Linked DNA regions of Homo sapiens. The protein of the gene in region 3 interacts with the protein of the main gene of each other region in a pairwise test. Each region holds a gene or a part of one and is shown on either strand. Other genes may lie near its edges.

Region 1 (8,017 bases), on a different chromosome or scaffold from region 3:
TGAAGTTTTGTTCTGGGGCTGGGCGCAGTGTCTCGCACCTGTAATCCCAGCACTTTGGGAGGCCGAGGCAGTGGATCACTTGAAGTCAGGAGTTCAAGACCAGCGTGGCCAACATGGTGAAATCCTGTCTCTACTAAAAATACAAAAATTAGCCGGGCGTGATGGCATGCACCTGTAGTCCCAGCTACTCAGGAGGCTGAAGCTGGAGAATTGCTTGAACCAGGGAGGCGGAGGCTGCAGTGAGTCGAGATCGTGCCACTGCCCTCCAGACTAGACAACATCAAGACTCTGTCTCAAAAAAAAAAAAAAAAAAAGTTTTGTTTTGGTTGGGTGGGGGCTGACCAATTTTACTGAAACTGAGGCAGCCAAATATAGTGAAAAACTATACTGGGCTTAAAAAGCTGGAGGTTCAAGTTTTTGCTTTGACATTTCCTAGCCAATACACACACACACAATTCCAGGAACGGTTTGACAGTGTAATATCATCCTCCAGAAGTAGATGGAATTATTATTATTATTATGTTGAGACAGAGTCTCGTTCTGTCACCCAGGCTGGAGCTCAGTTGTGCAATCTCAGCTCACTGCATCTTCAACCTCCTGGGATGAAGCGATCCTCCCACCTCAGCCTCCTGAGTAGCTAAGACTACAGGTGCCCACCACCATGCCTGGCGAATTTTTTTCAATTTTTTGTAAAGGTGGAGTCTCACTATATTGCCCAGGCTGGTCTGAACTCCTGTGCTCCAGCAATCCTCCCACCTCAGCCTCCCAAAGTGCTGGGAGGCTGAGCCACCATACCCCCAAGGTTGATGGAATTATAACTCCCATTTGTCAGTGGGAGAAACTGAGGCTCTGGAAAAGTCATTTGGTAAGGGCTGCAGTGTCTGTGGGAAATGACTGCTATCTAGGCCTGTCTGACTCCAGGGTACACATTGAACCATTTCCTTTTTTTTTTTTTTTGAGAAGGAGTCTCACTCTGTTGCCAAGGCTGGAGTGCAGCGGCCATGATCTCAGCTCACTGCGACCTCTTCCTCCACGGTTCAAGCAATTCTGCCTCAGCCTTCTAAGTAACTGGGATTATAGGCGCCTGCCACCACGCCTAGCTAATTTTTGTACTTTTAATAGAGACGGGGTTTCACCATGTTGGCCAGGCTGGTCTCAAACTCATGACCTCAGGTGATCCACCTGCATCGACTTCCCAAAGTGCTGGGATTACTGGCGTGAGCCACCATGCCTGGCCTTGAACCACTTCTTCTTCTTTTTTTTTTTTTGAGATGGAGTCTTGCTCTGTTGCCCAGACTGGAGTGCAGTGGCACGATCTCGGCTCACTGCAAGCTCCGCTTCCCGGGTTCACACCATTCTCCTGCCTCACCTCCCAAGTAGCTGGGACTACAGGAGCCTGCCACCTCGCCCGGCTAATTTTTTGTATTTTTAGTAGAGACGGTTTCATCGTGTTAGCCAGGATGGTCTCAATCTCCTGACCTCGTGATCTGCCCGCCTCGGCCTCCCAAAGTGCTGGGATTACAGGCGTGAGCCACCGCGCCCGGCCTTGAACCACTTCTTTATGTTTCCTATGTCAATGTCCTGGGTAATTGTCTTCACTTCTCTGAGCCTCAGTTTCCTCACTGGCAACAGAGGATTACACGCTCTTTCTTGGAGGGCTACGGTGAGAATTTGATGAGATTACACATGTCCTATATACACATGTGTTTACATATATGTGCATATATTTGTATATTTATGTGTGTATATTTGTGTACTTTTGTGTGCATATATTTGTGTGTGCGTGTATTTGTGTGTGTGCATTTGTATGTGTATATTTGTGTATTTGTGTACACATATTTGTGTATTTGTGTGTGTACTTGTATGCATATACTTGTGTGTATTTGTGTGTGTGTATTTGTGTGTGTATCAAGTCCAGCACAGAATTGAGTACATACAGTAGGTGTTCAGTAAATAAATGTTAAATTAATGAATGATGGTGAGGTGTGGTGGCTCATACCTGTAATCTCAGCACTTTGGGAAGCCAAGATGGGCAGATCACTTGAGGCCAGGAGTTCGAGACCAGCCTGGCCAACATGGCAATACCCTGTCTCTACTAAAAATACAAAAATTAGCCAGGCAAGAGTCCCAGCCTCTCGGGGGCTGAGGAAGGAGGATCACTTGAGTCTAGGAGGCAGAGGTTGCAGTGAGCTGAGATTGTGCCACTGCACTCCAGTCTGGGCAACAGAGTGAGACCCTGTCTCACAAAAATAAATAAAGAAAAATAAATGAATAATAATCCTCAAAATCCTCAATAATGACAATGATGATGATGGTGGCAATAAGACCTCAGGTTCTAGAGTGAGACCAAGACTAGGATGAGGTGAATATGGCACCCAAGGGTGCAAAATTTAACGGGGCACTCACTCTTAGGGTCAAGCGAGTGCCCTACTTGCCTAACCCTAGTCCTGGGCCAGCTCTGGAGTCAGACCACTTTGGTTCAAATCTAAGCCACTATGTTGTGGCCTTGGGTAAGTCACTTTCCTTCCCTATGCTTCCATTATCTCATCTGTAAAATGGGGATGATGGTGGTATCTCTCTTACTGATGATTCAACAATACATGAAAAATGTCTGGCACAGTGCCATGGAGTCAGAGCTCAAATTGTGTGATAATAATTATGATTACAGCGTTGTGACTTTATAGGTACAATTATTATCAGGTAGTAGAAATAGTAATGATGAGGATGATTACTATACCCATCTTAAAGAGGGAAAAACCATGCCCCAGAGAGTGCCTGTTCAAGCCCTCAGAACAAGCCAGAGTTGGGAATGGATGCTGCGTCTGCATCTCGGAGACCTGGCTCCTGCATTCCAGCTCATCTCCCGCCCACTAGGGAAACACGAAGGGACCCGGGAACTACAACTCCCAGGAGGCGCCAGGGCAGCTCTCTGCAGCAACTAGGGCCCTGCCGCCGCGAAGCCTGCTGGGAGCCGTAGTCCCCAGGCTCTTGGGCCTGGGACAGGCGGTACCTGTATTAGGAGGCGGAGCAGCTGCTCCTTGGAGAAGGGAATGAAGCGCTCGCGGTACTGCTGGGCCCAGTCGCGGGGCTCCCTGGGGTTCCACATCTTGCGATACTCCCCCATTTTGGCTGCCAGCGATGAGAGGGCCCGGGGGGGCCCGAGGAGCGCGGGCAACAGTGGCCATACTCGGACCCTGGACCCCCAGACCCCCCGGGTCACATGCAGCATGGCTAGACCCTTTCCCCGGAGCCTAAACAGAGGAAAATGGGCAGGGGTCAAAGGCCATCTAGAGGAAAAGCGCCCTCTCCACCTCCACGTCCCACCCTCCAGAAGCCGTCTCTACCCCAGGCAGGGCGCAGAGCCCATCCGCTCGCCTCAAAGCCCCTGTTGCCTGTCCCCTTCCCACACTGCTCAGTTGGCCTGGGTCCCAGACAGGGGTCAGAGGTCTTAGGTTCTGGGGCGTTTTTCAGGCCCAGAGACCCTGTAGTGGTACAACGTTTCTTTGGGGTCTAGACAGCGAGGTAGATCTTAGGAGAGCAGGAAATGCTCGTAAAGGTTACCTAGGGGGTGCAGGGCCGCCCTCCCTGGCCATGCAATCCCCCGATTTCTCCCTCACCTTAGCCAAAGCTCGACTGTCATTGAGCCTCCTGCGCATGTGCAGGAGGGCGTCCTGGGCTCCCGAGGTTCGGCTTCACCCAGCAGTAAAACGCATGCGCAAAGCTTCGGTCAATGCGGGCTGTCCATTTCTCACCGCCGACTCCCTACATCAACTACGCATGCGTTGCCTGCCTTTCTCCACCGCCGGCCTCGTTTGGGCGCGACGCATGCGCCGCAGGAGTGTCTCCTTGTCAGCTTGCTACAAAGGGAAGGGGCGGTGTGGACGCGAGACTCCCTAGAGGGATGGGGCGGGGTAGGGCTCCCGCGCGCAGTCCGCCAACGGCGCGCAGTCCAACGTTCGCCGAGGCCACGCCCCGGCTCGTGTCAGCTCCTGAGTAGGCGGAAAGAGGGAGGGGGCGGGACTTGGGCGCAGCCAATCAGCTGTGGAGGAGCGAAAAGGCGGGAAAAAGCGGAACCAAAAGAAGGCTGAGGTGGCGCTAGGGACCAGGAGGGGTGGGGGTGGCGAAAGGAAGGGCGGGCCCTCAGGTGACGCAGATTGGCCCTCCAGAGAAGGGGCGGCCCCTTCTCAGGTGCCGTCACCCCCAAACCTCAGCACTGCCATTCCAGGTCCTTAAAGGGGAGACCGCGATTCTAAGAAGGTAGCCCAGTGCCGGGGCGTGGCCTCATTCTGAGGTTCCCCACAAATCCGAGGTCCCGACTCCCAGCTTGAGGAGGTGCACTTCCGTGAAAATGGAGCTGAATTCGAAAGGGAGGCCCTTATTCTGGGAAATGGCCCCAAGTGACAAGGACAGCCTGAAATATGCCCTGAGATACCTGGGTTCTCCACGAAGGGTGCTGTCACCCCCAAACCTGAAAGGGATTATTCGGTTTCAGACCTCCCAGGGGCTCTGATCTCAATGGCCGCACCCCCTAGTCCCCAGAAAGTCCCACCTGTGTCCTCTCACAGAAGGACCCAGTCCCTCTGCAGGCCCTTCAGCTCCTGGGTCACAAGACGTGGTCCCCAAATATCCCAGCCCTCCCCTGCACTCCACCTCTGGGATCCCTGACAGCCCTCTCGCCCAACAACCCCCTCAGCCCACATTCCTGACTTCTGGAACCTGAAGCAGCCCCTTCACTTATGTCCCCCACTCCTGGGACCCCCAGAATCACCCTCACCCCAGGCCCTCACCTCTCTGGAATCCTCCATAGACCCCCTTAACCCACACCTCAACCCAGGGGACCCTTAGCGACTCTCTCATCCTGCACCTCCACCTCTGTGACCCCTGGCAGCCCTCCCCACACGACACCTTGCCTGGGACCCCTAGTATCCCCATCCTATGCCCCCCTCTCCTGGGACCCCCAGAAAGCTCCCTCACCACACACAACCCCATTCCTGGGAACCCCCAGCACCCGCATCCTATGTCCCCCACTTCAGGGACCCCTAGCAGCCCTCTCCACACAACACCTTTCCTGGGACCCCCCAGAACCCCCATCCTATGCCTCCCACTTCTGGGACCCCTAGTAGCCCCCTCACCACACAACCCCATTCCTGGGACCCCCAGCACCCCCATCCTATGCCCCCCACTCCTGGGGCCCACAGAAGCCCCCTCAGCACACACAACCTCATTCCCTGGGACCCACCTGCACCCCCATCCTACGTCCCCGACTTCTGGGGCCCCTGACAGCCCATTCACCCCACACCCTGACTCCTAAGAGGCTCAGCAGTCCCCTCACCCCACACAACTCCATTCCGGGGACCCCCCCCATCCCCACCCCATGTCCCCCAATCCTGGGGCCCCCAACAGCCCTTCCACCCCGTGCCCCTGACTGGCATCCCCCATCTGTGTCATCCCACAGCAGCCAAGCCCAGGGCTGGCCTGAAGCCCCCGGACGGCAGTGCCCAGCAGGCAGCGCCCAGCACCCTGGCTCCCACCTCCCAGTGGCCCCAAAGGAAAACAGCTGCCATGCACATCCCCAAAAGCCTCCAGGAGCTGGCCAACAGCGAAGCCGTGCAGTTTCTGAGAAGGCCCAAGACCATCACGCGGGTCTTCGAAGGGGTGAGGCCCTCCCATGGCCCGACTGTGCCCCTGGGTGACAGGAGCCAGGAGCTCTCAACTCCCAGACACAGTGCGGGAGATGGGAGGACAAGGAAGGGGTCAGACGGGGAAACAAGACAACGGAGCAAATGCTGACACCACCTTTTCCTGAGCACCCCACTATAGGCCCTATGCTATTGAGGCACTGATGGACTCTCATAGTAAGGAACAGCCCTCACAGTAGGTGCTGCAAGTCCCATCTCTGAGATAACAAAACTAGGGCTTAGAAAAGTTAAGTAAATTTTTTTTCTTTGAAACAATCTTAATTAGCCAGGCATAGTGGCACACACCTGTAATCCTAGCTACTGAGGAGGCTGAGGCAGGAGAATCACTCGAACCCGGGTGGTGGAGTTTGCAGTGAGTGGAGATCATACCACTGCACTCCAGCCCAGGCAACAGAGCCAGACTCCATCTCAAAAAAAAAAAAAAGAAAAAAGAAAAGAAAGAAACAGTTTCGCTCTGTTGCCCAGGCTGGAGTGCAAAAAGCAGTGGCGTGATCTCCGCTCACTGGAACTCCACCTCCTGGGTTCAAGCGATTCTCCTGCCTCAGCTTCCCAAGTAGCTGGGATTACAGGTGTGCGCCACTGCGCCTGGCTAATTTTTGTATTTTTAGTAGAGATGGGGTTTCGCCATGTTGGCCAGGCTGGCCTCAAACTCCTGACGTCAAGTGTTCTGCCCACCTCAGCCTCCCAAAGTGCTGGGATTATAGGTGTCAGCCACCGCGCCCAGCCTAAGTAAATTTTTTAAATCTGGGATGTCCAGTGGGGTAGCCACAGCCACATGTGGCTACCTCACTTTGCACTAATTAAAATAAAAGTCCATTCTTCACTCACAGTGGCCACATTTTAGGTGCTCAACAGCCACATGTGGCTGGGGACTCTCATATTAGACAGTACAGGCTGGGTGTGGTGGTTCATGCCTGTAAAACCAGCACCTTGGTAGGCCAAGGCAGGCAGATCATTTGAGGTCAGGAGTTCGAGACCAGCCTGGCCAACATGGCGAAAACCCATCTCTACTAAAAATACAAAAATTATCCAGGCATGGTGGCGCAAGCCTGTAGTCCCAGTTACTTAGGGGGCTGAGGCTCAAGGATGGCTTGAGCCCATGTGGCGGAGGTTGCACTGCAGCCTCGGTGACAGAGTGAGACTCTGTCTCAAAAAAAAAAAAAAAAATTGTGGCTGGGCACGGTGGCTCACACCTGTAATCCCAGCACTTTGGGAGGCCGAGGCGGGCGGATCGTGAGGTGAGGAGATCGAGACCATCCTGGCTAACACGGTGAAACCCCATCTCTACTAAAAATACAAAAAAATTAGCTGGGTGTGGTGGCAGGCGCCTGTGGTCCCAGCTACTCTGGAGGCTGAGGCAGGAGAATGGCGTGAACCCGGGAGGTGGAGCTTGCAGTGAGCCGAGATCACACCACTGCACTGCAGCCTGGGCGACAGAGCGAGACTCCATTTAAAAAAAAAAAAAAATTAGTGCAGATATGGGACATTTTCATCATGCCAGAGAGTTCTATTAGACAGCATTGGCTAAGGTCACGCAGTAACAGGCAGGGGCAGGATTCAAACTCAGATCTGTGAGATGCCAGAGCCCATTTATTTTCCACCTCCCAGTTGAGGGAGGAGGAGAAGGAGAGGAACAGGGGCTGGGGCTTCTAGGAAGAGAATAAGGAGTGCAGCCCTGAAGTGCCAGATGTTGGGTGGTAACCGTGTGCCAGGCACCATGCCACCGTTCATTTCATCATCCCCACACTCCTGAAGAATCTGGACACCTGGAGTCAAATCCTCATTCAGCCCAGACTTTGCTGTGTGATCTTGAACCAATCACTGTTCATCTCTGGATCTCAGTACATGAAGGGTTAGGGCTGTGGCTCTGACCTTTAACCTGTGCTGCTTCCACCACTCCGCTTTAACAGAATTGGAAACTAAGGCCCAGGGAGATGTTGAGACTTGATCGAGGTCTTAGGAGTAGGTGGAGTTCCCCGGCTCAGACCCAGGGTCTCCACCCCCAGAGTGCTAATCCAGAGTATCTCCTCTCTGCCCCTTCTAGAGCCTGAGCTTGGAGAAGGAACAAACAGGCCTGGAATCCTGGCTCAGGCACGTGCTGTCCATGCAAAGTGGCATACTGCCCAGTTTACCTGGGCCAGGCCTGATGTCCTTACCAGCAGCAGCAACTTTCTTTCTCAAAAGTGCCCCTTTGGTTTGATGGCTTGCCTGGTCACCCTGTGTCCGTGTGACCCTGAGCAAGCTATGTGATTTCTCTGAACATCTCCTTACTCTCGTCTGTAAAAAGAGGATCCTAATAATCTACTCCTAGGAAGAAT
Region 2 (7,951 bases), on a different chromosome or scaffold from region 3:
GCACAATTCTCAAAGGAAGTTTCTCAGTAGGGGGCTTAGCTGAGGGCATGTTCTCTATTAGAGCCGATGTGGAGGGCATATAGTTAGGAAAGAGAGAGAGAGAGAGAACAGGAACAGATGCAAATGTAGTTTTCATAATATCAAAGTTCAATACAGCTACCACACAGAAAAAGACATATCAATAATATATTGTACAAGCTTTTACAGAAACACATGTTGATTTGCAACACTGTACAGTTCAGATCTAAAGTGCACAACCCCAATCTGAGGTGACAAGACAGTATTATCCAGATAATAAAGGCAACACAGTCAGAATTGATTTCCTTTTCTTTCCTCACATCCTGTGGCAGTATATGAAGTCCATACCATGTATAGGTCTCAGATAAAGACATATCACACTTGTTTGTTCAAGTATTTTAAATGATAAACACAATATTGCTGTATAAATGAAAATGGCCATGTCAGTTCTGATTAAAGCTAAAACCAAACTTTTCTAAGATTTGTAAAGAATGGGCACACATAAAGACCATGGCACTGGGAATTTGGGCTAATATTAAAAATAATCTCCCTTCTTTCCTCCCTCCCTCCCTCCCTTCATTTCCTTCCTCCCTCCCTCCTTCCCTCCCTCCCTCCCTCCCTCCCTTCCTCCCTTACTCTCTTCTGACCTGATTCCACATCTCCTTTCAAGATGATTTATTAAACTACTGGGACCTACTAGGCTTTTATTTGCTTCCTTCTTTGGGCTACAGTTGGTAAGGATTTCCCTGCACAGGCCTGAGCAAGGCTCTCAGCCAATTTGAAGGAGTACTGGGAAGGGGTAGGGGAGCGGGGAAGAAGAGCTATTGTTGTTGCTAGAATTGTTTTGCTGGAATTTCATATATAGGCACAAATTGTCCTTTAAAATTTTACCATCTCATTAACCTAAAAAGCAGCAGTTTATAATCTAGGATCTGTAACTCAAAAGATAAAGCATCCTGGAGTACAGCAGGGTTGGTTCACCAGGGCACTGGGCCCCACTGTCTTCTCCACGAAGGACAGCAGGTTGGATCAATTAGCATCTCTGTCTCTGAAGTGGAACCTTTGGGCCTGAGGCTCCGGATAGTCGGGCAGCTATGTGCTTATTCTCAGCAGGCAGTTTTGAGAAAGGAACTGCTTTCTAATGCTTTGTCTAATGCTTGGCCATTAGACAAAGCCTAGAATGGAAGGTTACTCCTTCATGAAATTCTGCGGGACAGATGAAAGAGTTTATTTCTGATTGTCATAGTGAACCCATTTGTTTTTCTAGACAGAAAGGGCCCAAAGCCATGTTCATATCAAGTTATCACTGTTTTTGCATATAGCCTAGGAGAAATAATGTAGGGGGAAGCTTATGAAAATTTCAGATGGCTGGATCCTGTGGTTATATTATAGGGCATTTCTCTATGTTATATTGTAGGGCATTTCTACCCGTTGAAGGGCAGGGCCTTCTCTCTTCCCTTGTATACCTGCAGTCTGAGTACTGAACTACCTGGTCCATTCAGAAATGGAGAATGTTCCTAAATTTGCATTTGCAGTCTGCATATCAATCTATTGTTCTCCAATCAGCACTTGGAATCTGACGATGTGTGACCCCATAAATATCTATGGAAGCTTTTGTTAGCTCATGTTTTTCTATCAGGTTCACAGGGAAAGAAGGATGTTTTAAAAATACTATTTTGAATTCTAAGGATCTTATTATTTCTGCATATTCTGGTCACTTTGGATCTCGATGGGAGATGGATAAAGGAAAATCTTAAGATAATGCCTCAAAATCTAGGGTGAGAGGCTCATTTCATGGAAGAAAAACAACCACCCATGGAATATAAAGTAACTATTTTGGGTCCCAGTGGTAGGGAGTCTAGTGGGAGAGACTTTGTGGGGAGGAATGGGGAGGGGATGGAAATGCGCAACTGGCCTGGAGGTAAATTTCTCTTTCCTGGACAGTGGCAATATGGCGCCAGGATGATGTCATTATTGTCCCACAGAGATCTCTTCTCCCAAGGCCAACTTTAATTTTCTGGGCTCACCACATTCTGGGAGTGTGCTTCATTCCTCTTTGCTCAGGCTGATAAGGTTTTATTTTTACTTTCTCTAATTAATTCAAATGACCTAATAAAAGAATACTATTTGGAAGATGCCTCAAGAACTAGCATCAACCTTCTGTTCAAAACAGGCCGAACTGGAAAGCAGAATAGAGACAATTACCCTAATTTAATCTGAGATGAAGCCTGGTTTGTCACGCTTGCAGAGTGAGTCCGCTAAGAGTAAAATGGGTGGAAAACTTAAAGGGGAAGAGAATCTTACTGCCAATGGGATCAATTATTTTAAAGAACTCGCAGTATTCTTTTGTGTTTGTCTTGAAATACTAACTTTAGAGATGTGATAAGCCATAACATGTATAGAAAGAAGCAATAATACCTTTTAAGAATTTCGTGGGTCAATGTTTCAAAATAACTTTGCTAAGTGTTTTATTGTGCCTCCATTAAGAGAAAGGAAAAAAAAATCTGGCTTAGATTTTATATCTGCCCCCGCAGTTTGTATAACCTATATAAAATAAAAATCTATATGTTACAAAATAGGATATCTTTTTTAATATATATATTTTCCTTTTGTAAAATTATATGTATTTAAATACATTTGAAATGTTGCTATAGGTAAATTAGAAATTTTTTTCTAATACTATGAAAAAGGCAAGAGTTTTTATTGTCAACATATATTTTATATTTACTTTGTCCTTTTTACTGCACCCCAAAGAACCTTTTATGATTCAGGGGCAATTTGGCACTATTCAGTCCTACTAGTCTGAAGTGAAAATAAAGTTTGCTTTGCACACTATATTAAAAGTAAGGGAAGTATTTATAACAATTTTAAGCTTTTCCTTATTGATTAGAACATAGCCTTTTGTCACGAATTCTTAGAGAGGTATTCTAAACTTAAGAAAGGACTTTTAAAAGGAGCAATGTCTTTTTTGTTTAATTTTTAAACTCTACTTTGACACCACAATATAGAAATAGATTTACTTTGGAACAAACTACAAATACATTCACACAGTTTGTGACAACTTAATTGTCTACCTAGAGAAGTGGAACAGCTTGGTGAGCAAGGTTATTATAAATCTTGTCCAAGGCGTTCTATTTCTTCAATCAGGAAGTCAATGTCTTGGTGAGTTGCCGCTGGGTTTGAGATGACCATGCGGAAGAAATTGACCTTGTCTCCCAAGGGTTGGTAGCTGACCATTGTGGTTCCATACTCCATCATTCTGGCTTTAATCACTGGAGCCACCTGTGGGACAGACCATATCAGCATGGTGACTTTCTCCTGGGACTCTCCCCTGAGTCAAAGAACCCAACAGCAAGCAGCGTCTTTAGTTTTTAGCTCAACAGTCAGAACCTTATTGTTTTCTCTTGAAAGAGTTACCTCCAAGTTTTCTTGGGATCAGAGAATTAGAACAGTCTAACACATTCAAGATCCTGCAAGTGATAAGAGGAATAATAAGTGATAGACTATCAGCTGCCTGCCACCTTGTCCTTGACTTTCCAGTTAGTGTTTTGGGAGGATGGGATGAATCTAGTATTGGCCCCAAGCTAAATGGGTTAGCAAGACGTTTGGGGGCATTTTCCCCCCACAGTAAATGTAAAAACATTGGAAATAAACAGTTCAGAGGATTGTTACCAAAATGTAAGTTTGAGTGTCAGGTGATATATGAAGATAAGCAGACTTTTGGCAACTTTCTTGAAACCCCAGAGCTTTCTAGTTTCTTTTCGTTCTCTCTTTGCAGTGCCTCACTTTATAAGATATTTTGAAAGATAATCCTTAATAATGATGATAATTAGCTGGGACAAAAAGCTGAACTCACAAGGACTTAACATATGTTTCATATCACAGACAGGATAGCATACCACAGACGAGATTATACTCTATTTATGCCAGATTTTTGATTATAGCCTCAGTAGCTCTCTATTGTATATGAAATTAAGTTTAAACTCTAGTTCAGTGCAAAGACCTTTCATCATCCATTTATGAGGCCTCATCTTCCACCACTTGCCAAAATGAATCTTCAACTCTGACAAGACTCCTTTATTAAATATCTCTTGAATTTACCATATGTATTTTTATCCCTTCACACTTGTCATCAGTGTTACTATGTCATACTTGTTCTCTGTGCTTAGAATCCATCCCTTTTCTCTTCTGGTTCATATCCTACACACACTTCAAGATTCCACCACAGTCCTACAACTGCTATGAAGCCTTTCCTGACTTCTAGTGTCCATCAGTAGCTCTCTTCCTTTAAGCTGTAAACATATCATCCATGATCCTTCCCCATAGATTCTGACTATATGCTAATTTCCTACTATCCTCTTACTTTCAAGCAAATACATTTTCTTTCTCTACCTCAACTGTCAGGTCCTGGAGGGCAGACACAGTGTCTTCTACTGTTTTTGTTGTTGTTCTTTACCAGCACAGTGCTTGGTTCATGTTGGGGGATTCCTAAGTTCTTATTGCTATAAAGAGTAGCATAATAGAAACAGCTATCTAGGAAGAAGCAAAAACTTAAATCATGTCTAACTGTACATACAGTCTATCCACATATATTTACCACTGGAGTTTGTAAATATATAATATCTGATCTTCATTTCTGCAAATGGTAGATAGACATCAGAGAAACTTTTAGACTTCTTTGAGTTTCATATGGTCAGAAACCCGGTTCAAAATGGAGACCATGCCTTCTATCACAGCTGGATTTATCTTAAATAGACAGTTCAATTCAAATGGAATGCTGTTATGAACATGTGACTTATAAATATCAACTCTTAAATAATCATTGGTTTATAATGAAGTTTTCATCTTCAAAGTATCCAATGCATAAAATAGCAATGTTCCCATTGGGTCCAATCATTTGTTAGTTACCAAAGACAAGGTCAACAGGTAGACTTCACCTTCACTTCTCATTCTGAACCTAATTTCCTTCTCTAAAAATGAACGTGGATGATTCCAGCATTGAGATCTTCTGACTCTACATTGAGTTCTTATATCCCTTCCCACCCCTTGTTCCATGGGGAGGAATGTTTCTCTTGGCCTGATCCTTCTTTCACCTAAAGCATTAAGAATGTATGCAGAGCACTGGACTCATCCCAGGGAATAAATAAGAAGAAGAATTAAAATATCTCAAATCTGAGATTAACTTCTGAAAATAGATCTACTAGCATATTCCAGCCAAAGGGGCATGGAATTTATCCTTTGTGTTGTGAGGCGTGTCAAGTCAATGTGGTTCCTGCGAAGATAAATCTCAGATTAGAAAAGGAATTCCAAATCCACTTGGCTGCAGGAATTTAAGGACAAGTCACATAACCATTCCTTAGTTTTATTTGTATAATAAATCACGCTTGCCCTTTAGAACTGATAAAATAATGACAGAGCTTTACTCAGTAAATTAAAGTCTCATTTAGTTTTCATGGGTAATCCAAGCAAAAATACAGAAGAATGGCACTAATTATTAAGGACAATCATCTCTAGCTTTTCAGATGAATGCAAATCAAAGGTTAAAAGATTAATGCTAACAGCCACAAGCAAACAGATTTGGGCATAAAGTAAGATTGAATCCCCTCAGTTCCCGAAGCAAGCTGAATTGGCAGAAATCACAGCTGTCTAAATACATATGACTTTTGGTTGCTTCCAGAAAATGCTGATGAACTAAAATTAGCCGGAACATGAACATCTACTTCGTTGTATATTCACTCATTGCAAGTTAAGAAGGAAAATAAGATTCGGACTATTCTGATGAATATATGTGATCTGTGGGGCCAAAATAGACACTCCTATATCAACTAAGATGGGTCCAGGGTTCAAGGCCTGGCTGGAGGGCAAATTACTAAATTCCTAATGATTGAAATTCCCTAACAATAGGCGCTATGAGACCCCCTCCTTACCCTGATTTACTAACCAGACCACTATAACTCTGACTAGACAGAAGACTGACCTTACACACATTCTTTCCTGGTAAGCAATTGCAGACCTTAAGCCAGTTTTAGCAGCTTATAGATGCGGTGCACAAACTGTGTTTATGTCCTACAGTTCACCTTTTGACATGAAGAGCCAAATTTCACCTCATTCTAACACTAAAACCCTGCCCCGAAGTAAACATGGGATGTATGTTACATATATGTTTACTCATTCTGCATGTGCTCAGCTCCCCTCATAAATATGGATAGCTTTCCCCCAAAACCTACTGAATATGTATGACTCTACTGTGTGATACAGGCCCTGTGAGGCATAAAACCCAACCTGCCCTTCCTCTCTTGGAAGAGAGGGCACCTTCCACACATGCTGGAGGCTGTCTCTTCCCAGTTTGCAAACTGATATCATCAATAAAGCTCTCCTTTCTACTATCTAGCCATCCCAGTGGTCTTTTGGATGAAATACATAGAGATTTCACTTATTTCTAGGCTTTTGTACTTTTTGGTTGGATTCCTAGTTTTCCTAAATAAAGAACGCAAGTTGAGAAAGAGTGGTTGCATGTTGAAGAATTCGCTAAAGGTATAGTCAACAAGAGCTCTTTGGGCCTGCCTTAATAATTTTAGGGTATTGTCTTCTCTCTTGTGCCATTAGCTTTTTCAGTCCTTTAGAAAGCAATAACCAGGCGACTTTTCCATAATTGGAATCCACATTTGTCCCTTTCAAAGAGGGTGCATAGTAAAGCATTATGAAATAAACTTAAAAGATATCACAGAAATGTATTTTTCACTATGTCTTAGAAAACCTCTTTGTTTTTACATTTTGGAAGACTGCGAGAAATTTCTGAAAAATGTAAAAGCAGAATAATTAAATGAGAAATTCTAAACTGTTGGCTAGGCTTGGTGGCTCATGCCTGTAATCCCAGCACTTTGGGAGGCCGAGGTGAGCCGATCACTTAAGGTCAGGCGTTCGAGACCAGCCTGGCCAACATGGTGAAACCCCGTCCCAACCCTGTCCTGACCAAAAAATATAAAAATTAGCTGGGTGTGGTGGTGTGTGCCTGTAATCCCAGCTACTCGGCAGGCTGAGGTGGGAGAATCACTTGAACCTGAGAGGTGGAGGTTGCAGTGAGCCGAGATGGCACCACTGTACTCCAGCCTGGGCAACAGAGTGAGACCCTGTCTTAAAAAAAAAAAATTCTAATATGCGAAAATTTCACCAATTAAATCCTCTATTGCACTTAATAACACAGACTTTCAAAGAGTCTGTATTAAATATAAGTCCAGGCTACTTCCTTACAAATTTAGTATTAAATCCACTGCTAACCTTTGAAAAGTCCTCCAATCAGTGTAGGACTATAAAAGCTGACAGAACCAGATAATGATCAAGAATAAAAAAAATTAAAATAAGAAGATAAAGAACCAGAAACACAAGAGGTGATCAATAGACCAGCCCTTTTGATTCTTGTTTGGTAAACATTGGCACAGCCCACTTGCTGCCCCTCCCTGTGTCCAAGGCATGTGTGTGGCGTCACATCCTCATAGTGCCCCAAGCATTCATCATCTGCACTGCCTCAGGGACAAAGCGCCATCTGCAAGATCATAGTCCTGACAGAGCAGCAGGAAGCACACTGACTGGATTCTCGTGTTTACCACCCTCATGAAGATATGACTGTATTTGCTTTATTAATAACTTCTGTTATCCAGATATTTGTCCCCAAATAGTGCACTCTGGAAAAAGGCTTATGAGCCACTATTAGGTTTCCTAAATGTTGTTTCCCTTCCTTATTCTGGAATATGCCTAAGGTATTTGCTATAGACTGAATTTTTCTGTCCTCCCAAAATTTATATGTTGAAATCTTAACCCCTCAATGTGATGATATTAGGAGATAGGGCCTTTGGTAGGTGATTAGTTCAGGAAGGCACAGTCTTAGGGACCCCAGAGAGCTCCCTTGACCTCTTTCTGCCATGTGAGGATACAG
Region 3 (7,951 bases):
GGAGGGGGAGGTTGCAGTGAGACAAGACTGTGCCATTGCACTCCAGCCTGGGCAACAGAGCAAGACTCCGTCTCAAAAACAAAACAAAACAAAAAACAGCAACAACACTTAAGAGCTGTGCAATTAATGCAATTAACAGCAATTAGATAGCAAGTCTTGGCAGGCAGAGGTTGCAAAGGAGTTGTTTGACTCTTTCTTAGGACTTGGTCCTCAGATGCTGAGGTATGTTAGGGACAAAGGGATTGGGAATCAATTCTTGATTTTGTTCCCTGGTGCACAGCAAGGGTTGTAGAAGAAGGTCTGAGTGAGTGGAAACTGATGCCTCCTGCTCGGTTCATGATGGGGGAACTAGAAGGGACTGCATCCTACTTTGGGGAAGAGGGAGCCTGCTTGCTGCAGGCTTTGGTGGTCACCTGCTGGGTCAGGGGCCAGTCAGGGATGGCTCCCGGTGTCAAGATCATAGATCGGAGCAGAAACTGCCATCTACATCTTCAATTCACAGATGAGGAAACTGAAGCTTGGGCATGCTGATTCCCTGGACGGGGGCCACACAGCTAGTTAGTGGTAAAGTTGGGGCCATAATTTAGTTCTCTAAATATTGGTAGGCCCCTCTCTGCCTTCTCACGTTCCCCTTCATGTTAGATGTGAGAGCTCTGAACTCTCAAGATGCAAGGCTCTGGGACTCTGTATATGGTAAGTAGGATGTCCATTGCGTATGTGCTGGGCAGTTTCGGATACGAGATATTTGTTGGGAGCTCGGTGCATTGGCTCATACCTGTAATCTCAGCACTTTGGGAGGACAAGTTGGGAGGACCGCTCCCAGCAGGATTGCCCAGCAGTTTGAGACCAGCCTGGGAAACATAGGGAAACCCCTGTCTCTACAAACAGTAAAAAAAAAAAATTGCTGGGTGTGGTGGTGCATGGTTGTGGTCCCAGCTACTAGGGAGGCTGGAGTAGGAGGGCTGTTTGAGCCCCAGAGGTCAAGGCTGCAGTGAGCCATGATTGCACCACTGTACTCTAGCCTGGGTGACAGAGTTAGACCCTCTCTCTCAAAAAAAAAAAAAAAGAGATTTGTTGGGGAACAAGCAGGTAACAGCAGGTAGGTAGGTGGGCACACTGAACTAGAAAGCTTAACAATAGGAAGGATTTTTTTTCTACTAGAAAATCCTGGTCTATTTTAATTTTCCTACATCTTCCTTAGAATCCGGGTTGAGGGTTTCATATTTGTATCTCATTGATTCTGGGGTGATGTGTAACAATGTGTAATGTCTCTGTGTCTTACCTCTTTTTCTCTTTTTTTTTCTTTCTTTTTTTTTTTTTTTGAGACACAGTCTTGCTCTGTCGCCCAAACTAGAGTACAGTGGCACAATCTTGGCTCACTGCAACCTTTGCCTCCCGGGTTAAAGCTATTCTCCTGCCTCAGCCTCCTGAGTAGCTGGGATTACAGGCACCCGCCACCGTGCCCGGCTAATTTTTATATTTTTAGCAGAGACAGGGTTTCACCATCTTGGCCAGTCTGGTCTAGAACTCCTGACCTCGTGATCCATCTGCCTTGGCCTCCCAAAGTGCTGGGATTACAGGCGTGAGCCACTGCACCTGGCTTTCCTTTTTTGAATGAAGGAAAGAAAGAGCAAACCTAATTCTCAGACCCCAGAAGATTTGAAAGATCTTTGGAATTTCCCTCCTCCCCACCCCAAGAAAACCCAATGTAATCTCTGGGACTGAGGAGAGGAAAGGATCAGTTTTCTTTGGACTGTGATTTGCATGTGTCAGGGCCTTCCTGAACCCTGGGGCACAGTTGAGTCTCCATGAGGACTTAGTTTTTGGGTGGCTGGGGTTTCAGGCATGCTGGTGAGTTGAGTGCTAGTCTGAGACCAGTGTGCTCCTGGTCTCCTGGCCTGTGGCGTGACCGCAGAAGGTCACTTACAGACACAAGGGCAAGTAATTTAATGAGCATTTCCTGCCTTGCATCACTGGAAACCTGATCTCGTTCCTCCCAGCCAAGGAAGAAGGTGGCCCGTAGCAGCTTTTCCCTAAGTCTGACCTCACAGTGATGCAAGGGCCTTGAAGGCCATGGTAAAGATTTTGGCTTTTACTGCTAATGACATGTACATCCGTCTGGCTGCTGTGTATAGAATAGACATCAGGGAGACAGGCTCGAAGCAAGAAGATCAGCATTATTTCATTAATAACCCTATGAAATTGATCCTAGAATCTCTGTTTTACAGAGGTTAAGTCACTTATCCAAGGTCACATGGCCTGTCAGTGCAGGAGCCAGGATTCGAACCCAGGCTGTTGAACACCAGTGTCTGTGCTCTTAACTACTGCCCTAGGCTCATCTGTGCCCTGAGTACTCCTGTTAGCTTTTGTTTCTCTTCTATCTTGGCTTGTGGGGCGTCTTTCTTTCTTTTTTATTTGAGACGGAGTCTCGCTCTGTTGCCCAGGCTGGAGTGCAGTGGCTCGATCTCAGCTCACCACAACCTCCGCCTTCCAGGTTCAAGCGATTCTCCTGCCTCAGCCTCCCGAGTAGCTGGGATTACAGATGTGTGCCACCACTCCTGGCTAATTTTTGTATTTTTAGTAGAGACAGGGTTTCACTATGTTGGCCAGGCTGGTCTCGAATTCCTGACCTTGTGATCCGCCTGCCTCAGCCTCCCAAAGTGCTGGGATTACAAGCGTGAGCTACCGCACCCAGCCGGGCATCTTTCTTTAGTAGCAGATTGTGCAGAAAAAGACACTGCACAGGGAATCAGTATTCTTGAGTTCAGGTCCTAGCTTTGCCATTGTCTAGTATCTGAATTTGGTGAGCCACCTCTCTCAGGTTGAGTTTCTTTATCTAAAAACAAAGGCTGACAATAATAATAATCATAACAACAACAATAACAATAATAGCTAACTGCGTGAAACACAGATTATCCCATTTAATCTAAATATCAACCCATGGCCTGGCGCAGTGGCCCATGCCTGTAATCCCAGCACTTTGGGAGGCTAAGGAGGGCAGAGCACTTTGAGCTTAGGTGTTCAAGACCAGCCTGGGCAACATGGTGAAACCCCATCACTATAAAACAAACAAACAAACAAAAAACAAAAAAAAACCTTAGCTGGGCATTGGTCGCTCGCTCCTGTAATCCCAGCTACTTGGGAGGCTGAGGCTGAAGAATCGCTTGAACCCAGAAGGCGGAGGTTGCAGTGAGCCAAGATCGTGCCAGGGTACTCCAGCCTGGGTGACAGAGTGAGATCCTGTCTCAAAAATAAATGAATGAGTGAATGAATGAATGACAACCCTGTTTTTTAGATGAGGAGATTGAAGCTAAGAGATGCTGAGTAACTTGAAAGTCATGGAGCCAGAATTCGAACCCATGCCTGCTGTATAACTCAGATACTAATACCGTGGGCTCCAAAAGTATCCTGAGACTCTTAGCTCTAGAAGAAAAGTTTTGAACTTGCTGGGTCCCTTTTCATTTATATAGTGCTTTCACACAATGCACTATCAGGACTCTTAGTTGCAAATGAAAAAAACCCAGTCTGACTGGTTTTAAGCCAAAAGAGGGTTTATTGAGTCAAGTCTAGTGGCAAATGGCTTCAGGCAAGGCTGGATCCAGGAGCTCAGGTGATGTCTGTGTCTGTGTGTGGATGTCTCTCTCTCTCTCCTCTGTGTCAGCATTATTCTCAGGCAGTCCCTCCCATGTTGTGGCAAAGATGGCCAGGTGGCCCTCAGCTGACATCTGTCAGCTTAGCAGCTCTGGCAGAAACAGAGCATCCTTTCCCCCTGTGGTTTCAGCAAGCGTCCCAGGGCTGACTCTCATTGGCCCAGCTTGGGTCATGTGACTATGCCTTACTTAACCAGTCACTGTGGCACTGATTGGCCAGGTCACGGTCACATATCTGCTCCTGAAGCCTAAAAGTGGGATCAGTGCCACCACACTACATGAAACGAGTTGGGGAGGGATGGTCCCATGAAGGAAAATCAAAAAGCTGGTAGTTTAAAAAAAAAAAACAGAGAGAGGGATGCTGGACAGGCACCTTTTGGGGGGCTAATAGAAATTGTTGGCTGGGTGTAGTGGCCTATGCCTGTAATCCCAACAGGAGGCTGAGGCAGGTAGATCGCTTGAGCCCAGGAGTTTGAGACCAGCCTGGGCAATGTAGTAAGACCCTGACTCTACAAAAAACCACAAAAATTAGCTAGGCATGGTGGCGTGCACCCATGGTCCCACCTACTTGGGAGGCTGAAGTGGGAGGATTACCTAAGTTCAGGAAGTGGAGGTTGCAGTAAGCTGAGATCCTGCCACTGCACCCCAGCCTGGGTGACAGAGTGAGACCCTGTCTCAAAAAATGTTTTTTTCTTCAAGGGAAACAGTGGCATCGATTGGACACTGCTTAAATTGCTAACGGGGGTAGTTTAAGGGGGTGGTTCACAGTTGCATGTTAGGCCACACTGCATTCTTTTTTTTTTGAGACGGAGTTTTGCTCTTGTTGTCCAGGCTGGAGTACAATGGCTCTGTCTCGGCTCACTGCAACCTCTGCCTCTCGGGTTCAAGTGATTCTCCTGCCTCAGCCTCCTGAGTAGCTGTAGCTAGGACTACAGGCACATGCCACCACACCTGGCTAATTTTTGTATTTTTAGTAGAGACAGGGTTTCACCATGTTGGCCAGCTGGTCTCGAACTCCTGACCTCAGGTGATCTGCCCACCTCGGCCTCCCAGAGTGCTGGGATTATAGGCATGAGCCACCTTGCCCGGCCCACACTACATTCTTGATGATGTCACATCTTTGTGACAGTGCCTAGCCTGCTGCATGCACCTCATCTCCTAGCTCTTTCACAGCTGATGACACCGAGGCACAGAGGGATTACATAACTCAGCTAATAAGTGGCAGGCTCTGGATCTGAACTCGGGCAACTTGATGGCAGCATCAAATCACTTAACCATTGTGTTTTCATGCCACCCAAATGCGTGCCTCCCACGCACAGACCCCCACTTACCGCTCCCGTAACATACCGTTCATGGATTCTGACACATGACTCAGAATCTGTCCCGCACAGGACGCATACACGTTAGGCGAAGTCATCCTTGGTGGTGTTTCTATGGTGATGAGTCCTGGTTAAGTATAGTCAGCGTCTGAAAGTCTATTTGAAGTTGATTTCTTAGAGCTATATAAAAGTAATCTCTTGTCCAGGCACAGTGGCTCATGCCTGTAATCCCAGCACCTTGGGAGGCCAAGATAGGCAGGTCATTTGAGCTCAGGAGTTTGAGACCAGCCTAGGCAACATGGCAAAACCCCTGTCTCTACAAAAAATACAAAAATTAGCCAGGCATGGTGGCACAGGCCTGTAGTTTCAGCTACTCGGGTGGTTGAGAGAGGAGGATCGCCTGAGCCCAGGGAGGTGAAGGCTGTGGTGAGCAGCCATGATTGTGTCACTGCACTCCAGACTGGGCGACAGAGTAAGACTGTGTCTCAAAAGAAAAAAAAAAGGAATCTCTTGAAAGTTTACCACCAGCAAGAGGCACAGCTCTAAGGCACCACACTTAAGTGGCGGTATGGCCCTATTGCAGTCTACTGGACTGCCCAGCGACTTCTGATGCTCCTGGGCCAGAACCATGTCTGTAAATGCCGTGAGATTCCTCTAGCAATTCCTGCAACACATGTTGACTCCCCAGTCCTGGATCTTCCGACAGCCAAGATGTGTTAAGGAGGTGTCTTCAGATGTTTCACATCTGTACTGGGAACAGGAGTCATTAACCTCATCTTCCCACTGGGGCAGAGCTTGGGTCTCAGAGGACAGCAGAGGTGGCAGAGATCCCTGAATCTTCCAAAGGAAACTTGCTTGTTTGTGTCTTCTACATGCGGAGGATGGTAATTAGACAAGTAGGGAAGATGCTCTGGGCATGACAGCTCACAGAGCTCATGTGAGCAGTTCTCCTTTTTGTTGTTGTTTTGTAAGAGAGGGTCTCACTTTGTCGCCCAGGCTGGAATGCAGTGGTCCCATCATGGATCACTGCAGCTTCAACTTCCTGGGTTCAAGTGATTCTCCCTCTTCAGCCTCCTGAGTATCTGGGACTACAGGCACACACCACCACACTTGGCTAAGTTTTGTAATTTTTGTAGAGATGGGGTTTTGTCATGTTGCCCAGGCTGGTCTTGAACTTCTGGCCTCAAGCATTCCTCCCATCTCAGCCTCCCAAAGTGCTGAGACTATAGGTATGAGTGCCTGGTCCTCCTTTTTTTTTTTCAACCAAGAGTTTCACTCTTGTTGCCCAGGCTGGAGTGCAGTGGTGCCATCTTGGCTCACTGCAACCTCCGCCTTCTGGTTTCAAGCAATTCTTCTGCCTCAGTCTCCCGAGTAGCTGGGATTGCAGGCAGGCACCACCACGCCCAGCTAATTTTTGTATTTTTAGTAGATGGGGTTTCACCATGTTGGCCAAGCTGGTCTTGAACTCCTAACCTCGTGATCCGCCCACTCCAGCCTCCCAAAGTGCTGGGATTACAGGCATAAGCCACTGCATTCAGCCCTGGCCCTCCTTTTTTTTTGAATGGAATCAGTTCTACTTTTTTTTTTTTTTTTTTTTTTGAGACAGCGTCTTGCTCTGTCGCCCAGGCTGGAGTGCAGTGGCTCAATCTTAGCTCATTGCAACCTCTGCCTCCCGGGTTCAAGCGATTTTCCTGCCTCAGCCTCCTGAGTAGCTGGGACTACAGGCATGTGCCACCATGCCCAGCTAATTTTTGTATTTTTAGTAGAGTTTCACCATGTTGGCCAGGATGGTCTCGATCTCTTGACCTTGTGATCCGCCCGCTTTGGCCTCTCAAAGTGCTGGGATTATAGGCGTGAGCCACCACACCTGGCCTTTTTTTTTTTTTTTTGAGATAGAGTCTCGCTCTGTTGCCCAGGCTGGAATACAGTGGCACGATCTCGGCTCACTGCAACCTCTGCCTCCCGGGTTCAAGCGATTCTTCTGCCTCAGCCCCCTGAGTAGTTGGTATTACAGGCGTGTGCTACCACAGCAGGCTAATTTTTTTATTTGTAGTAGATACGGGGTTTTACCATGTTGATCAGGCTAGTGTCGAACTCCTGACCTTGTGATCTGCTCACCTCAGCCTCCCACAGTGCTGGGATTAGAGGCGTAAGCCACTGTGCCCGGCCTCCATTCTACATTTTTATAAGTAATACATATTCACACAGTTAAAAATTCATGTAGCAGCCATGCATAGTAGTTTTTATAACACAACTAAAAACTGGCAACCTGAACGTCCGTGGGAATGGATCATTACACTGAGCACCCAGAGAGAGGTGAAGCAGGAGAGTGAATAAACTGAGCTACCTGTGTTAACATCCTGCAGAAAGTTGCAGAGGGGTATGTACAATGTGGCACTTGCAATAAAGGCAAAAACATTGAAAACAACACAGTATATTGCTTAATGATACATTGTATGTAGTCCAAGTATAAAGACTTGCAAAGGAGTGATAAAGACCACAGTTGGTGCTATCATGGAAATTCAGACAGGGCCCAAGCAAGAAGTCAATGGCTGTCTCAGGAAGGTCTCGCTGAAAATAAGGGGCTGTTTACAAAGGTGTGGGCAGTTTTTTAAATTTACTTTTTTTTTTTTTTTTTGAGATGGAGTTTCGCTCTTGTTGCCCAGGCTGGAGTGCAATGGCGCGATCTTGGCTCACTGCAACCTCCGCCTCCCGGGTTCAAGCAATTCTCTTGCCTCAGCCTCCCAAGTAGCTGAGATTACAGGCATGCACCTCCACACCCGGCTAATTTTGTATTTGTAGTAGAGACGGGGTTTCTCCATGTTAGTCAGGCTGGTCTCAAACTCCTGACCTCAGGTGATCCGCCTGCCTCGCCTCCCAAAGTGCTGGGATTACAGACATGAGCCACCGCGCCTGGCTTTTGTTTGTTTGTTTGTTTGTTTTGTTTTGTTTTAAGAGAGAGGGGGGTCTAACTCCATCGTT
Region 4 (6,102 bases), 9.1 Mb from region 3:
TTTCCTTTAGGGCTCGCTTTTAACAGTGAGTGTTGTTGTGGCAACTAAAATAAGGAGCCGGCCAGTGCTCCTAGGGAGGAAAACCTCGGCAACTCCGCAGGTGCAGGCACCGGCCACAGACCCACGCCTGGGGCACTCGCGTTTGCATTAGCAGAGCGCAGGAGTCAGGGAGCGCGGGCAGGGGCGGGAGGAGGGGTCTGCGCACTGGCCACGGTGTGGGGGACCCAGCCCTACCCCTTCCCGGGGCTGAGTGGGACTCGCCACGAGGCCAGCAGTTTTTCCAGGTTTTTCTGCTACTCTAGTGGACATGCAACCTTTCCAGTTTGAATTCCACCTCGGTTTAATCCACTTTTTAAACTCATGAAAGGATGTGAGTGTAGATTTGCTGAAGACATTCATAAAAAGTCATTTAGGCAATAAATACTATAGGATTACAGTGTCTTTAAAAAGTATAAATAAATTATTGACTGTACACGTCAAGACTGATTTGGAAGGAAATTCATTCTGGGAGAAATAGAGAAATAGATTAAAATTAACATCTAGGGCTCTGTCTCCATGAATTAGTTTTCTCCAGTTCTATCTTCTCTTTTTTTTCAATAGTGGTTTTCAACTGTCACTTTCCAATATGATCAGAATTCAGTTGAGGAAGTAAAGAAATTCTACTTAATAAGAAAAACTCTGAATGAGGATTAAGTATAGAGGATAACTCAGAACATAGTGGGGGGCGGGGAGATCCCCCCATTAACAAATGGAATGTGTCAAATTGACAAAAGAATTCAAACAGAGTGACTTTGAGATAGAGCCCAAATTCACTGACTTGGTATCTGTTAGAAACAGCAAGAATTCCAGCAAGTCCCTTAATACATGGTACTGACAACTGAGCCGTGAACCACAGAAGCTTGTAATATACACTAATCATCAACAAATCACCAAATACTCCAAAAATTACATCATGACACACAGTAACAGCCACAAGAGCAATTTTCCTAGTAGAACAATTTATTAATTAATATGCAATAAAATATCTCCCCAAAATCTTTCCAGAAATGACAAGGCAGGAAAGTGAATACTTTTATGCTTCTCTGGAAATTTTTAATGTAAACATGAAATATTTGAAGAACCGATTAAAAAGTCTCAAGTGAATCTGTAAATACATTTTTAAGTCTGACTTCAAATCGGTACATGAGGCTTAGACATACACATCATTGGACAAGTGACTTAAATATCTAAATACAAATCAAATAGCATTTTCCTAACTTCAACTATAAAAACACAAATTTCAGTAGGTACTGCAAATCTAAGAAGAATAACTTGAAAAATACCATAATAAGTGTTGTAAAAGGGGAGGACTCATATGACAGACCTTGAAGGAAAGGTGGGACATCACGGGAGGCAGGTCCCCCTGTGGACATGATTCCACAGAGGCGTGGAGTCCTTTTGCCACCAGCATGATCCTGAAATATTGAAAACCCTCAAGACAAGTGATACCTTCAACATAGCCACAAATCAGTGAGCACATCCCACGACAGGGTGTTTAAAGACCAAAAGAAAAAGAACAGTCAGAGGCAGAATTCCCCTAGTAACTGCCACACAGTGACCACCAGCGAGTGATCCAATGGACGCATCATGGATGAGGGAGATTCGGAATTGTGTTAAGTAAGGGACGCGGCTTCTGAGCCATTCAATATTCTCCACACCTGTTTGGAATCAGGCATCTCTACATTAGTTTCAAACCAAATGGTGTTAAAAGTCACATGCTTACACTACTACATACAGGAGTAACAAGAGTTCACGACATTTGGGGCATCCTGCATGCACTCCTTTAACATTCTGACTAGTGACTCTCTTAACAGATGTCCGCTCACCAGTTCATACATTTTACAAGTCTAAAAATAAGTGATATTCTTCTACTAAAAAAATGAGCAATAAAAAGGTTTAATTATCATGAATCCCTATACATTTTGGAAATTAACTTTTAAAAGTTCAGCAAAACATTAGGTACTTAACAACATGTATGTGGATCTGTACAATAGTTTAAATTTGTAAGAATTACTCCATGTCTCAGGAATAATTTCCTCGAGTCCCGAGAGTACTGAACCTCAGTTTCATCACCGTCTTAAATTCAGACTTCATTCATGTAAACTGGGAAACTCGAATCTCCTATTTAGTGAAAAGAGACCACGGTCTTTACAGTGCAGTAACCATTCATTATCCTGGGGGAGGGAACAGGCGGAAACGGAGCTGAGGCCGAGGCTTTTCTGGAGGGCACCAGCACATTTAAACTCACAGAAGGCACTTGAGGGCTTTGAGGGGCTTTGCAGCCAATGTTTTCCGTGACAATGGGAAACTTTAAACAACTGTACAAAGGTGGCTCCAACACCATGAAGCTTCCTATTTCACTCAAAAGGCCACATTCAGTATATAAAAATGGGGTACATTAAGATGCTAATAAATTAAACAATTTATAAACATTTAAAATTATAGATATCTTACAAAAACGTGATAAAAATTATTTCTTCAAACAGGCAATAAAACAGTATAAAAGGTCTCTTAATTAGCACAAACTAGCTGGGAGAGGGAGGGAAAGGAAGCCTTAGACCTGAGATCTAAAAGCTTCAGAACAGCCTGCCCGGTGACTCACGCCTGTAATCCCAGCACTTTGGGAGGCTGAGGTGGGTGGATCACAAGGTCAGGAGTTTGAGGCCAGCCTGGCCAGCATGGTAAAACCCCGTCTCTACTAAAAAGAAAACACAAAAAATTAGCTGGGTGTGGTGGCCCATGCCTGTAATCCCAGCTACTCGGGAGGCTGAGGCAGGAGAATTGCTTGAACCCGGGAGGCCGAGGTTGCAGTGAGCTGAGATCGCACCACTGCACTCCAGCCTGGATGACAAAGCGAGACTCCGTCTCAAAAAAAAAAAAAAAAGCCTTCATAACATAAAGCATTCCTTCCTAATTAAACTTCATGCACATTTGTTAACACTGAAATATTTTTAATATTAAAATGTTCAATATTTTCTTATTTCAAGGCCAGTGAGAGAAGTCTCACACTGCTCACATTCTGTAGTGTGTCATTCAGGGTCACGCATCACACCCACTGTGCTTACGGCGCTGTCACTGAACAAGACGTTCGGTTGTGCTTCTTCCGTGAACTCATACATTACAAGGTCAGCACTCGATGCCGGGTTACAGCGTCTGAGATTCATTCACGAAATGACAGGATGCTGATTTGGTTGCAGATGTGGTCTGAGTCTCAAGGATAAATGGCTCTTGGGATATGGTTGCTAGGACAATGTTGTTGCTAGGATAATTCCAAGGATCACAAGCAAAACAATTACACAAATAATAATGAACATCAATTTCTGCAAGATAAAGAAAAACATTAATTTGCAATGTATCAAAGAAATCAACAATGGCATTTGCTAACTAATCCTTCTGGGATTTGGGATAGTTTAAAAAATACATCCATTATCAAGAAAGGACTCCTCCATGTCATAGAAAAGAATGTGATCTTGGCTCACAGCAACCTCTGCCTTCCGGGTTCAAGTGATTCTCCTGCCTCAGCCTCCCGAGTAGCTGGGACTACAGGAACCCGCCACCACGCCCAGCTAATTTTTGTATTTTTAGTAGACACGGGGTTTCAGCATGTTGGCCAGGATAGTCTCGATCTCTTGACTTCGTGATCCACCCGCCTCAGCCTCCCAAAATGCTGGGATTACAGGCGTGAGGCACCAGGCCCGGCCGACACTTTCTTTTAATCATAATAAAACTCCAGGATTGCTTTTAATTGGATGAATTACACATATTTGTAAAACTTTAAACGAATTTCTTGTTGGCTGAAAAATCCTATTTTTTCTTTCTTTTCTGAAAGGAGGTGTCACTCTGTCGCCCAGGCTGGAGAGCAGTGGTGCAGACATGGCTCACTGCAAACACATCCTCCTGGACTCAAGCAATCCTCCCACCTCAGTGTCCCAAGGAGCTAGGATGACAGGCATGCACCACCATGCCCAGCTAATTAAAAAATATGTTTTTAAGAGATGGGGTCTTGCTATGTTGCCCAGACTAGTCTCGAATTCTTGGGCTCAAGCGATCTTCCTGCCTTGGCCTTCCGAAGTGTTGGGATTACAGGCATGAGCCACTGCACCTGGCCTTATCCATTTTTTACATTTAAATATGACAAATGTGTAAGAAATCAACAAGACATTCATTCATTCTTCTACTGCACTGATGGTCTGGAAGCAGGGTGCGACACAGCATTTAACTTTTTTAAAATTAACAAGTATCCTCACACAAGGCAAAGCGAGACCACCTTTGGCTTAATAAATGGAGTCTCCTCCAGGAAGCTTGTCTGAGGGAAGGAAAGGAAGACACAACAGGAGGCACCGCGCTGTAGGACTTTGAGTTCTCTTTTTGAACAGCAGAGATCCATCATTTTAATTACAGTTCCAAATGTACGAGTGCTTTTACCTAAGAAATCCTGTTTGCTGAGCCTGGACAGTTCCAAGACTGCCGGCTCAGTCAGTTATACAGGGTTATCAAGAGGCGCATGGCAGGCCCCGGTGAGCCTCCCAGTGACTCCTCAGGACCGGGGAGAGCTGCCTGCAGGAGGGCCCCTCCCTCAAACTCTGGTTCCCTGTTAACATCACGCACATTTCCTGCAAAGCCCCAGCCACTCTCTCATCCTCTATATGCGCTCCTACGCCCCACTCTCAGCACCTTCCTAGAGAAACCTCTTCTTCCTTTTCTCTGTGATGCCTTCCCTCCCTCCAGAGGGAGGCGCGCGCCCTCCCGCTCAGCAAGTGAGTGTGCTGGCAGCTGGGCCACCTGGAGTCAGCTCCACGCAGCGTGCTCTCATCTCCTGCTGCTGTTGTGCTGCCTGCCACGTGTCTGGGTGCTCGATGTGTGTGCACTTTCCTGCCACATCTGGCTTTCAGGATGACTGTCAACTACATGGAGTCTAGGGTACAGGACTCAGGAGTCATCTAATCTCCTGGTGACAGCGAGAGTGGAAAGGGTACACCCTGGGGAGTCCAGCTCCAGGTCTGGGCCAGGGCCCTCTCACCGAATACCTGTAAGACTCCACCTGTCTCCTTAAAGCAGCCCATCCCACCCATGCTCCGGGGTGACAGGCCTGCACCTGGCACACCCTGCAGGGAGGGGCAGCAGCCAGCCCCAGGAAGGCCAATTGCTAAAGGATGAAAGGCTATGTTAATATTTTAAAAGTGAAGTTAAGGACATTAACCACTGCCTTCCTATGCAAAGATAACTGCTGGTATTCATTTTGGTCTGCTTTTTATGAATGAGGATCCTTCTATGTTCATTCTTATTTACAGACACTAGGGTGAAATGGCCAGCCAGGCCCGGGGCACAGGACTTCAAGCCCCACTCCCCAGGGGTCACACTGAGAGGAGCCTTCTTTTAGTCAACCTTAATGCCAAGTAGTGCCCATGAAAAGTCGCGCATTTCACTGTGTCCGCGCTACAAATTGTAATTTTATCTTTAGTGTAACCACATTAAACTAACCATATTATAGCTACTAGGAAAAAACTCAGAAAGTACATGTTAGAATCATGAAAATATTGAAAAATACTACTATAACAATGAAGAAAAATCACGTACAATATTTTCAGCAAAGCTAAGAAGAAAAAAATAGAACATCTTGCCTAATAAACATCCTACACAAACATCCTGCCTAATAAAAATAGACGGTAAGAGAGTTCTGACTGCCAAATAATGGAATGTTAACACACGCAGCATCCCAGAGCTCCTTACAGAGTAATTTCAGGTGTAATTTTGTGGCTTTTGCATAAATGTCAGAAGACTAACTGGAAAACTTCTCATCTGGTAACTGCATGGTGAGCGTAACAGATGCTCACATTAAGATATCAATCTCTTGTTTTGAGATGGTCTCGCTCTGTCACCCAGGCTGGAGTGCCGTGGTGCGATCTAGACTCACTCTAGCCTCGACCTCCCCAGGCTCAGGTGATCCTCCTGCCTCGGCCTCTGGCGTAGCTGGGACTATAGGCACGTGTGCCACCATGCCCAATTAGTTTTTGGATTTTTTTTTTTCTGTAGAGACAGGGTGTTGCCATGTTGAAGGAATAA

Evidence for each region.
Region 1: the proteins of TMEM120B (region 3) and TMEM143 interact in binary tests that used the Homo sapiens proteins (3 or more experiments, as listed by UniProt).
Region 2: the proteins of TMEM120B (region 3) and GAD2 interact in binary tests that used the Homo sapiens proteins (3 or more experiments, as listed by UniProt).
Region 4: the proteins of TMEM120B (region 3) and STX2 interact in binary tests that used the Homo sapiens proteins (3 or more experiments, as listed by UniProt).

Annotation. Positions count from the first base shown.
Region 1 is NC_000019.10:48,360,281-48,368,297, forward strand, and holds the start of TMEM143 (transmembrane protein 143), read right to left. Parts: upstream 3,661-8,017; 5' UTR 3,641-3,660; coding exon 3,618-3,640; intron 3,252-3,617; coding exon 3,011-3,251; intron 1-3,010. Other genes in the region: SYNGR4 (synaptogyrin-4), read left to right, coding at 5,563-5,655.
Region 2 is NC_000010.11:26,296,137-26,304,087, reverse strand, and holds part of GAD2 (glutamate decarboxylase 2), read right to left. Parts: intron 3,301-7,951; coding exon 3,127-3,300; 3' UTR 1-3,126. UniProt on the Homo sapiens protein: Catalyzes the production of GABA.
Region 3 is NC_000012.12:121,715,259-121,723,209, forward strand, and holds part of TMEM120B (transmembrane protein 120B), read left to right. Parts: intron 1-7,951. UniProt on the Homo sapiens protein: Necessary for efficient adipogenesis. Does not show ion channel activity.
Region 4 is NC_000012.12:130,788,619-130,794,720, forward strand, and holds the end of STX2 (syntaxin-2), read right to left. Parts: intron 3,360-6,102; coding exon of another isoform or gene 3,251-3,359; 3' UTR 982-3,250; downstream 1-981.